2 separate regions of the Homo sapiens genome follow, and region 2 is linked to region 1. Evidence: fine-mapped expression QTL. A gene starts in region 1. The other region holds a variant in brackets. All regions are shown on one strand. Distances are between the middles of the regions.

Region 1 (5,391 bases):
AACTACAAGATAAGCTATTCTGGTAAATTCTCGGTGCATGGCGAGACATTTAGTGCGAATTAAAGTTGTGGAAACACCGCTAGGAAGAATAACAAGCAATATACTTCTTAAAGTTAATTGCAGTTATGAAGGAATTCATAGTTTTAGTTAAAACTGCAGTTGTTTCTTTCTAGCAGTAGATGCCAGTAGAGTTCTTCTTTTTATTTTTATTTCTTAATCAAAAATCAAATATCCGAAGTACTTCTATAGCAATAGCTTCCTGGTCACATTACCACATATAGAAACATTGCTTTAAATATTAAATATTCTATTTTCTGGAAGGACTTGATAACAAATTGAAACAATTTTATTTTTAAAACAGTGCAGATTTAAAATACGGTGTTTTCAAGATACTCATCTAGTGAAGTTTACTCTTTTTGCTTTAGTAATTTTGTTTTAAAGCTTATGCATTGTTTTAAATAAAGTAATCTTAGTGTTCTAGTTAGGAATCTGCAACTTCTGTACTTGAGCAACATTGAATATAAATAAAAAATCTGGCTAGATGTGTTAAAAATGAATACGGTCCAGCTGAAATGTTACGATTAGTTTGTGTATTTGGCAATGGAATACCATGAGTGTAATACTTTGGGGAGGTTAATATGTCAGAGAGGTGAATGATTAAAGGGGGTAATTGGAAGCGGGGAAAACAAGAAGTTAAGAAGTCCACATTGGCACTGAGTAAAAATGTAATTCAAAGAATGAATAAAATTTAGTAACAAATAGAAAAAAGGAGAAGTTCAATGATAACAGTTCTATTACTCTTGTCTCTATATATGAGCAACTTGGTGCTTCTTGGATTATCTATAAATATGGTCCCATCATAAATAAAATTCAAACATTTTCAAGTATTCGGTGATTCTACTTAGACCTTTAAATTGTTAAAAATGAGTGAATACTTTTTTCTTTTAACATGTTTATTGAGTATGTAATACATGCATTTCATTTATGAATTCAAGTAACTCACAATTTAGGGTCATATAAATTCATAAACAGTACCTTTTAACATAATATTATGAGGTCAGTGAAAACAAAGCAGCAAAGTTTGTTTTCCTAGGAAGTATGTGGCAGACTTCACTGAAGAGGTGACATTTGAACTAAGCCTTGAAGATGATTAGAATTTCCTTCAGTAGAGCAAATCAAGGGAATTCAGTAATTTTATCCACTTCTTCCCTTACAGAATCAGTCCATGCTCTGTAGATATTTGTTGAAGACTACAGACATTTAATAAGTGTCTGTTTTGTGTAAGGCACTACCAGATGTTAAGAAACAAATTATTGTTATGCACACATAATATTTATACATAAAGCTACAAATTTAAGAATTTTGTCATATAGATGCTGTTGCATATTTGTTTAGATTGATAAAAATTTTATTACACAAAACAAAGTATACAGAAATGAGCTGTTACATGGCAAAATTCATTGGTCAGTGTTTTGTTAACTGTTATTCACACATAATATTTATACATAAAGCTATAAATTTAAGTTTATCTTATAGATACTGTTACATACTTGTTTAGATTGATATGAATTCCATTACACAAAGTATACACAAATGAACTGTTAAATGGCAAAATTCACTAATCAGTGTTTTCTTATTGGCCTTTTATGTAGTCCTAATTTGATTACATTATTGTTCCTATTTATTTTACTTATCAGTATTGTTTCTATTTTTTATGTTTGTCAAACAGTTGGCAGTAAATCTGAAGTAAGATTTTTTTAGATAGATTGTTTTAGATAGACCTTTTTCTTTCTTTCCTTTCCTTCCCTTCCCTCCCCTCCCCTCTGCTTCCAAAGAGAACCACGGAAATTTCTTATCCTTTAGTGTCAAAAAAACAAGTACTCAAAATTTTTGTTAAATGCCACAGGTTACTTTCTTTCCTGAAAATTGACAAGGCAAGTTTTACTTACTTTTAATCAAAAGAGATGTTTTGGCCAGGCGCGGTGGCTCACACTTGTAATCCCAGCACTTTGGGAGGCCAAGGCGGGCGTATCGCTTGAGGCCAGGAGTTTGAGACAACTCCTGACCTGGCCAACATGGAGAAACCCCATCTCTACTGAAAATACAAAAATTAGCCGGGCATGGTGGTGCGCGCCTATAATCCCAGCTACTCGGATGTCTGAGGGGCGAGAATCGCTTGAACCTAGGAGCGGAGGTCGCAGTGAGCAGAGGTCGCACCACTGCACTCCAATCTGGGAGACAGAGTGAAACAACGTTTAAAAAAAAATAGAGAGGTGTTTCTAAGTGAGATCACTAAATCAGGGGTTTAGGTAAGTAGTAGTCTTCAGTGGTAAGGTTTTAAAATTAACATGTCTCAGCCAACTAGAAGGAACTTTTTTCTCTCAATTGAAATTTCTTGCTATGGTGGATTTTATATAATTTAAATCTTGTATTTTGTTCTTTTCAAATTTTAGAATGTTTTAAAATGTACCCCTGGTAATAGACATATGTCAGCAGATTATAAGTTTGATAAGCAATACTGACATACTAAGTGTATGTAGTTCCTGTATGTATTAGGCCTAAATCAATGAATTAGAAACATTCAATTTTTTAAAGTGCTATTTCACATTGTTTTATTTATACGTGTTATAAATTTGTTTTGCAAGAGTTTTTTCATACCCATTTCATACTAGTTTTTTTTTATGAAAAGTTAGCTGCTTATAAGGATTCATAAAATCTGTATATTAGTTGATTTCCTAGAAAAAATACAACCTGTCTTTAGCATGTTGTGTTTGGAGGACAGCTTGGCCTTCAGTTGTTTGCATAGACTTGTCATACATGTTTAACTAGTTTTCTTTTTAAAGAATGTTTAGCCTACTATATATATAAAGCTTTATATTTAATGCTCTCATTAGCCTATATATTAATATTAAAACACCCAAACATAAAGCCTTTTAGGCAGATATTGCAAGTTTTTAAAATCCTCAACTCTAGCTGAAAAGTGTTTTGCTAAGAAAAGCTCAGTAATGTGCTGTTTTATATTAACAGGAAACAGAACAGCAGTAGTGGTTTGAATACCCTGCAAACAGGAAGTTTGACACATGCATAGCTCTTAGCTTCTGTGTAAGAAGTTGTGAGCTCCTTCTGGAAACATTTGCAGTTACATTAAGTAAAGTGTAAATGCACATGAATGGCAGCTTATAGAGAACCACCTTGTAACCAGTATACAGGTACAACTACAGCTCTTCAGAAATTGGAAGGTTTTGCTAGCCGGTTATTTCATAGACACTCTAAAGGTACTGCACATGATCAGAAAACAGCTCTGGAAAATGACAGCCTTCATTTCTCTGAACATACTGCCTTATGGGACAGATCAAGTAAGTTTTGTTTTTTAAATGATACATTATAACTAGCAACTAAAATGGTAATTGGAGTTTTACAATCAAACATAAAGAACCCTCTTTTGTTTGTTGTTTTCTGATTTTCACAAGGACATTTTGCAAGATGAAGTTGAAAGAATTCCATAAAAACTTGATTATAAGTTGAGCTGAATCATTCAGCTTTCATCATTGTATGGTTTTATTTTTGACTAAGTTCAATATCAGTGACAAGATTTTCTATAAAATTCTTACATCATTTCTAATGTACTTTTTTTTGTTGTTCTTACATAAAAATGAAATACTTAAGTTTCAGAAACAACCATCTGTTTACTTCTTAAAATGTCTTGTATTTATAAGCTTTAAACTTTGAAAGGGGCAACAAGACTCTTGAATTTATAATTACATTTCTATTGTGTTTGCCATGGTTTTATTTTTAAATGCATGTGAGAAAGTTATTTCAGTTTTACAAACAGGAATTTCTAAAATAAAACATAATTATTCTATCTAAATTCTTACACTTATAACATTATGGATATCAAAAACTTTATAATTATATTTTATGTTATTTATACATATGACTCAAATGCAGGAAAAGTTGGTTATGCATGAATCACATTCTTTCAGGCATGTTAAAATGTTTGAACTTGCAGCTTTGCTAAAATGGTGCTGGGGAACCATTTTTGGTGCCATACACTCTAAAAGATAAATTGCACATATAAACAATACTAGTGCCGCCATTCTACATCTCACCTTGGACCCTCCTCAAGGTATTTCTGTGACTCCAATTAGAGGAACAATAGAATTACCCTTGAAACTTTTGCCCTCTTTGGTGTGTTTGTTTGATCATCAAATAGCACTAGCGTTTGACTCTTTCTGTTTATGTATTTGGTAGCAGTTAAGGAAGAAAACTCAGCTTAACAACCACAACAGCAAAATCAAGAATGGCTTACAAAATTTACTCCTAGGTTTATACAGCACCTTGACAGTGTTATAGAAGCTTATTTGAATTAATTTTTTACTAAATCAGAAATTTTTTTACATTCTTCAAACTATTTTTGGGAGATTGAGGAAGAACATGTATTTGTGCATTTTTTCCACTTAAAAGGTTTTGGGTTATTTATAGTCTTTACTGTATAGCAAGTTGATGGATGAGGAATATGAATATATATCTTCAAGTTAATGAACTGTTGAATATTAAAATAGTGGTATAATATTAAACTTTACCATGTAACAAAAGCTTGTTAATTATTGTCCTTGCCCTATTCTTTTAAATTGCAGTCTTTTAAATCCTTTTGGAAATTATTTTTATGCATTTCAAGTATGTTTTAATTTAAAGTTAAATGAGGAATTAAGACAGAATTGAATTAATTTCTGTTTCATTAATACCTGCTCTTCATATAGTGGGTGTTTAGTAAAAGTGTCTCAAATAAATGAATGTTAGGGGTTTTTAATAATTAAAAGTTATGTTTGAACTAGACTTTCACCACTTTTTAAATGTATGGGATCTGTGATGCTTTCTAAAACATATTTTAAAATCTAGTAATGGAAAATAGTATCATGAGCCATGATTTCTATTGGATAAAATGCTGTTTTGTTTTTTTTTTATTGTGAAGTCAAAACAAATAGGATTCTTGTACACAAATAAAATTAGGAGCAAACCATGTAGCGCTGCAAATAATATGCATGATGTAAGAAATACTTAAAGAGTAACTGAATGTTCATTAATTAAGCATTCCTCTACTTGACTCTCCTTTTTATATCCCTGAATACCATAATAGAGATAATAATTTTATGTCTAAGGATGAGTATGGTAGCATGAAGCTATAATTTCCTATTATGAAATGTATTATTGTAGAGGAGAAAACACTGATAGAGCTGAAATAGAGGAATCCGATCATTTCAAAATTCCAAGGTTTATTTTTGTGGTGAAAACACAATTTTTATTTATTTGGCGAATGAGTTATAGAAGGAGTTCTGACTGTACAAAGTTTCATATGAACCACATTCTTCAAAGCTACTTAAAGCAGTTTAC
Region 2 (5,391 bases), 420 kb after region 1:
ACAAAGGGCAAAAACTAAGCACATGTAAGACTAATTTATGCATGGTTAAGGCATATTTGCTTTCCAGAATATTGAGTCCAAGATGAGCTGCTATTGCTGAAACAGCCCAATAGAGTGATTCTCTTCAAATAAGACAGAAACTTGATTCATGTTGCTACAGAATTTTGCAATTAATAAAAAAGAGGGGGCCAGGCGCGATGGCTTACGCCTGTAATCCCAGCATTTTGGGAGGCCAAGATGGGTGAATCACCTGAGGTCAGGAGTTCAAGACCAGCCTGGCCAACATGGTGAAACCCTGCCTCTACTACAAATACAAAAATTAGCTGGGTGTGGTGATGCATGCCTGTAATCCCAGCTACTCAGGACGCTGAGGCAGGAGAATTGCTTGAACCTGGGAGGCGGAGGGCGCAGTCAGCCGAGATCGTGCCACTGCACTCCAGCCTGGGCGAAAAGAACAAAACTCCATCTCAAAAAAAAAAAAAAAAAAAAGAAAAAAAAAAAAAGAAGGAGGCTGGGCGCGGTGGCTCACACCTATAATCCCAGCCCTTTGGGAGGCCGAGATGGGCAGATCATGAGGTCAGGAGATCGAGACCATCCTGGCTAACACAGTGAAACCCCGTCTCTATTAAAAAAATACAAAAAAATTAGCCAGGCTTGGTGGCGGGCACCTGTAGTCCCAGCTACTTGGGAGGCTAAGGCAGGAGAATGGCGTGAACCCGGGAGGCGGAGCTTGCAGTGAGCCAAGATCGCGCCACTGCACACCAGCGTGGGCGACATAGTGAGACTCCATCTCAAAAAAAAAAAAAAGAGGAAGGAAACAGTTATAACTAGATTTTTTTCTAAAGTGGCATTAAATGGCCTTCAATGCGCACCAAAATGTTTCCTGAATTCTGAGACCTAAAGAATGTGTTTCTTCATAGAAACAGAGTAAAAAGGTGGTTACCAGAGGCTGGGGGTGGGAAGAATAGATATTTCAAGACACAAATTTTCAATTAGGAACAATAAATACAAGAAATCTACTGTATCCCGTGGTAACTATAGTTAATAACAATGTATTATGTTGAAAATTCCTAAGAGAATGGATTTTAAGTGTTCTTACCATTTAAAAAATGGTATGTGAGGTAATACATATGTTAAATAACTTGATTTAGCCATTTCACAATGTATAGATATATCAAAACATCATCTTCTACACCATAAATACAGATAATTTTTGCCTGCCATTAAACTTTTTTTTTTTTTTGAGACGGAGTCTCGCTCTGTCGCCCAGGCTGGAGTGCAGTGGCGGGATCTCGGCTCACTGCAAGCTCCGCCTCCCGGGTTCACGCCATTCTCCTGCCTCAGCCTCCCAAGTAGCTGGGACTACAGGCGCCCGCCACTACGCCCGGCTAATTTTTTTTGTATTTTTAGTAGAGACGGGGTTTCACCGTTTTAGCCGGGATGGTCTCGATCTCCTGACCTCGTGATCCGCCCGCCTCAGCCTCCCAAAGTGCTGGGATTACAGGCGTGAGCCACCGCGCCCGGCCACTTTTTTTTAATTAAAAAAAAAAAAGAGGCCAAGTGCAGTGGCTCACACCTGTAATCCCAGCATTTTGGGAGGCCAAGGTGGGAGAATCACTTGAGGCCAGGAGTTCAAGACCAGCCTGGGCAATATAGAAAGACCCCGTCTCTACAAAAAGTAAAAAAATCAGCCTGGCATGATGGCACACGCCTATGGTCCTAGCTACTTGGTAGGCTGAGGCAGGAGGATTGCTTGAGCCCAAGAGGTCAAGGCTGCAGTGAGCCATGATTGTGCCACTGCACTCCATCCTGGGTGACAGAGCAAAACCTCGTCTAAAAAAAAAGAAGAATGTGTTCCTGCATTTTCACATTCATTAAGGAAAAAACAAGCCACAGATTACTAAGGTCAGGATTACAAAGAAACAGTATATGGTAGTATATACTGTCCTAAGATTCTATGTTACATATTTTTAAATTACAGGCATACCTCATTTTATTGTACTTTGCTTTATTGTGCTTTGCAGACATTAAATTTTTTGCAAATTGAAGGTTTATGGCAACTCTATTGAACAAGTCTACTGGTGCCATTTTTCCAACAGCAAGTGCTCATTTTGTGTCTGTGTCACATTTTGGCAATTCTTAAAATATTCCAAACTTTTTCATTATTATTATTATATCTGTTATGATGATCTGCAATCAGTGGTCTTTGATGCTACTATTGTAATTGTTTGTGGGCACCATGAACTGCCCATATAAGACTTAATAACAATATTTGGCTAGGCGCGGTAGCTCACGCCTGTAATGCCAACACTTTGGAAGGCCGAGATGGGAGGATCACTTGAAGTCAGGAGTTTCAAACCAGCCTGGCCAACATGGTGAAACCACATCTCTACTAAAAATACAAAAAATTAGCCGGGCATGGTAGGGCATCCCTATAACCCCAGATATTTGGGAGGCTAAGGCACGAGACTCACTTACACCTAGGAGGCAGAGGTTGCAGTGAACTGAGATTGTGCCACTGCACTCCAGCCTGGGTGACGGAGCGATACTCCATCTCAGAAAAAAAAGACTTAATAACGATATTGAAATTAGACTAATAACCTTACAATGGGAATTTTGCAATGAATAAAAAAGAGGAAGAAAATAGTTATAATTAGATTGTTTTCTGAAGTGACATTAAATGGCCTTCAAGGCTCACCAAAATGTTT[C/T]CTGAATTCTAAGAGCTTAAACAATGTGTTGGCCAGGTGCAGTGGCCCATGCGTGTAATCCCAGGCCTTTGGGAGGCCAAGGTAGGCGGATCACTTGAGGTCAGGAGTTTGAGACCAGACTGGCCTACATAGTGAAACCCCATCTCTACTAAAAATATAAAAATTAGCCCGGCATAGTGGCGGGCACCTGTAATCCCACCTATGGGGGAAGCTGAGGAGTAGAATTGCTTGAACCCAGGAGGCAGAGGGTGCAGTGAACCCAGAGGGCGCCACTGCACTACAGCCTGGGCGACAGAGCAAGACTCTGTCTCAAAAAAAAAAAAAAAAAGAAAGAAAGAAAGAAAGAAAGAAAGAAAGAAAGGAAAGAAAGAAAGAAAGAGAAACTAGAATCCCTCTTCCCTAAAATGGGTCATAGAAACTAGAGCCTCTTTTCCCCAAAACCAGCCATAAAGTCTAAAAATGTTACTCTAACCTTTCCCACCACCACCTTTCTGTGTAATAGCTGGCCATAAAGAAATTAAGACCCTCATTCCAGAGAGGTCCTACCCCATACCCATGAGAAGAAATCCTTCACAGAGAGGCCAAGAAAAATCTGAACAGACAGTCCTTGCTGAGTTTTCCCACTCAGTCTGTTTGCATTAGCTCATGCCCTTTATTCTGATCACAGTTCTACATAGCTGTCCATACTTCGTTGAACCTAAGCACAAAAATGGACAGTTTTTCCTGTATCTTTGGGTTTTCATTCTGAAACCTCCCATGTCGGGTAAAATTATGATCAAACACATTTTAAAAGGCAGAGACCCCTTTCTTCAAATAAATCTTATATTGGAAGAAGATGATGCCATTTAAGACTTTGCTAGCTAGACAGGAGAAGTCAATACCTGGCTTTAAAGCTCAAAGTACAGGCTGATTCTCTTGTTAGGGACTAATGAGGGTGGTAACTTTAAGTTGAAGCCAGTGTTCATTTACCATTCCAAAAATCCTATGGCACTTAAGAATTATGCTAAATTGACTCTGCCTGTGATCTATAAATGGAATAACAAAGCCTGGCTCACAGCACATCTGTTTACTGAATATCTTAAGCCCACTGCTGAGATGTACTAAGAAAAAAAAGAGATTTCTTTCAAAATATTACTGCTCATTGACAATGCACTTGGTCACCCAAGAGCTCTGATGGAGAACACAAGATGAATGTTATTTTCATGCCTGCTAACACAACATCCATTCTGCAGCCCATGGAACAAGGAGTAATTTCAACTTTTAACTCTTATTAATTAAGAAATAGATTTTGTAAGGCTGTAGCAGCCAAAGACAGTAACTCCTTTCATGGATCTGGCCAAAGTAAACTGAAAGCTTTTTGGAAAGGATTCACCATTCTAGATGCCATTAAGAACATTCATGATTCATGCATGGGAGGAGGTCAAAATATCAACATTAACAGGAGTTTGGAAGAAGTGGGTTACAACCCTCATGGATGACATTGAGGGGTTCAAGACTTCAGTGAAGGAAGTAACTGCAGAGGTAGTGGAAACAGCAAGAGAATTAGAATTGGAGGTGAATCCTAAATATGTGACTCAATTGCTACAATCTCGTGATAAAATTTGAATAGATGAGGAGCTACTTCTTATGAATACGCAAAGAAAGTAGTTTCTTGAGAATGGAATCTATTCCTGGTAAAATGCTGTGAACATTGTTCAAATAACAGCAAAGGATTTAGAATATTCTATAAACTTATTAATAAAGCAGCAGCAGAGTTTGATGGGGTTGACTCCAATTTTGAAAGAAGTTCTACTGTGGGTAAAATGCAATCAAATAGCATCACGTTTTACACAGAAATCTTTCGTGAAAGGAAGAGTCAATTGACGTGGCAAACTTCACTGTTGTCTTATTTTAAGAAATTGCCATAGCCACCCCAACCTTCAGCAACCACCACCCTGATCAGTCAGCAGCCATCAATGACAAGGCAAGACACTCTTCCAGCAAGCAGGTTATAACTTGATAAAGGCTCAGATGATCGTTATCATTTTTTTAGCAATAAAGTATTTTTAAATTAAGGTATGTACTTTTTTTAGACATAATGCTATTACACACTTAACAGACTACAGTATAGTATAAACATAACTTTTATATGCACAGGGAAACAAAAAATTCATGTCACTTGCTTTATTGCTATATTTACTTTATTGTGGTGGTCTAGAACTGACTCTGCAATATCTCTAAGGTATGCCTGTATATGTAATTGGTTACCATAACTTTTAACAAACCATATCCATGAAACAGTTTCTAAGAACTGCATGTTTCTAAGAATGCTGTGAAACAAGATTATATGTCAAACAATTAAACTACCTTATGTATTACAGCACTTCTCAAACCCATTAATATAATTGTTGTTACAAATCTCCAAGAGGGGCGTACAGTATATAGTGTTTTTCTAAATATATTTGGCCATGGCACACGTGTGTATATTTTGCACACATGTGCATCTGTGTGTGTAATATTAACAGTTCCCAGGACAGACTAATATAAACACTGTTTAGGAAAGATAAGATTACAATACACTCTAGTTTCACTAATAGGTATATACTTTCAGTTCCAAAGTTTAGAAAGCTCTACACTAAAGCTCTCTGTGGAGGCATACACATGTATATCAATTATAATTTATGACATGTAGTGTGTTTGCAGT

Direction of the effects. Alleles are on the strand shown, and positions count from the first base shown. SD is a standard deviation of normalised expression in the study named.
For the expression in lymphoblastoid cells of the gene that starts at base 3,079 in region 1, T is the low allele of the variant in region 2 and C is the other (large effect, 1.0 SD a copy in GTEx).

The links. PIP is the estimated chance that this variant, and not a neighbour inherited with it, causes the effect. A credible set is the group of variants that fine-mapping cannot tell apart.
Region 2: its variant is the best candidate, but not a certain one, in a credible set for the expression of PRKACB in lymphoblastoid cells (GTEx, PIP 0.76).

What each region holds. Positions count from the first base shown.
Region 1 is chr1:84,141,193-84,146,583 of GRCh38, forward strand. It overlaps PRKACB (protein kinase cAMP-activated catalytic subunit beta), which reads left to right and starts at 3,079. Exons shown (of 10, transcript NM_182948.4): 1 at 3,079-3,356. The coding sequence starts at 3,170. RefSeq lists a silencer at 3,098-3,147.
Region 2 is chr1:84,557,065-84,562,455 of GRCh38, forward strand. The region is part of intron 13 of SPATA1 (spermatogenesis associated 1); the gene reads left to right. The region is part of intron 6 of CTBS (chitobiase); the gene reads right to left. Among named protein-coding and RNA genes, the nearest start is that of CTBS, 15 kb to the right of the region's middle. The variant C/T (reference allele first, on the strand shown) is at 2,709.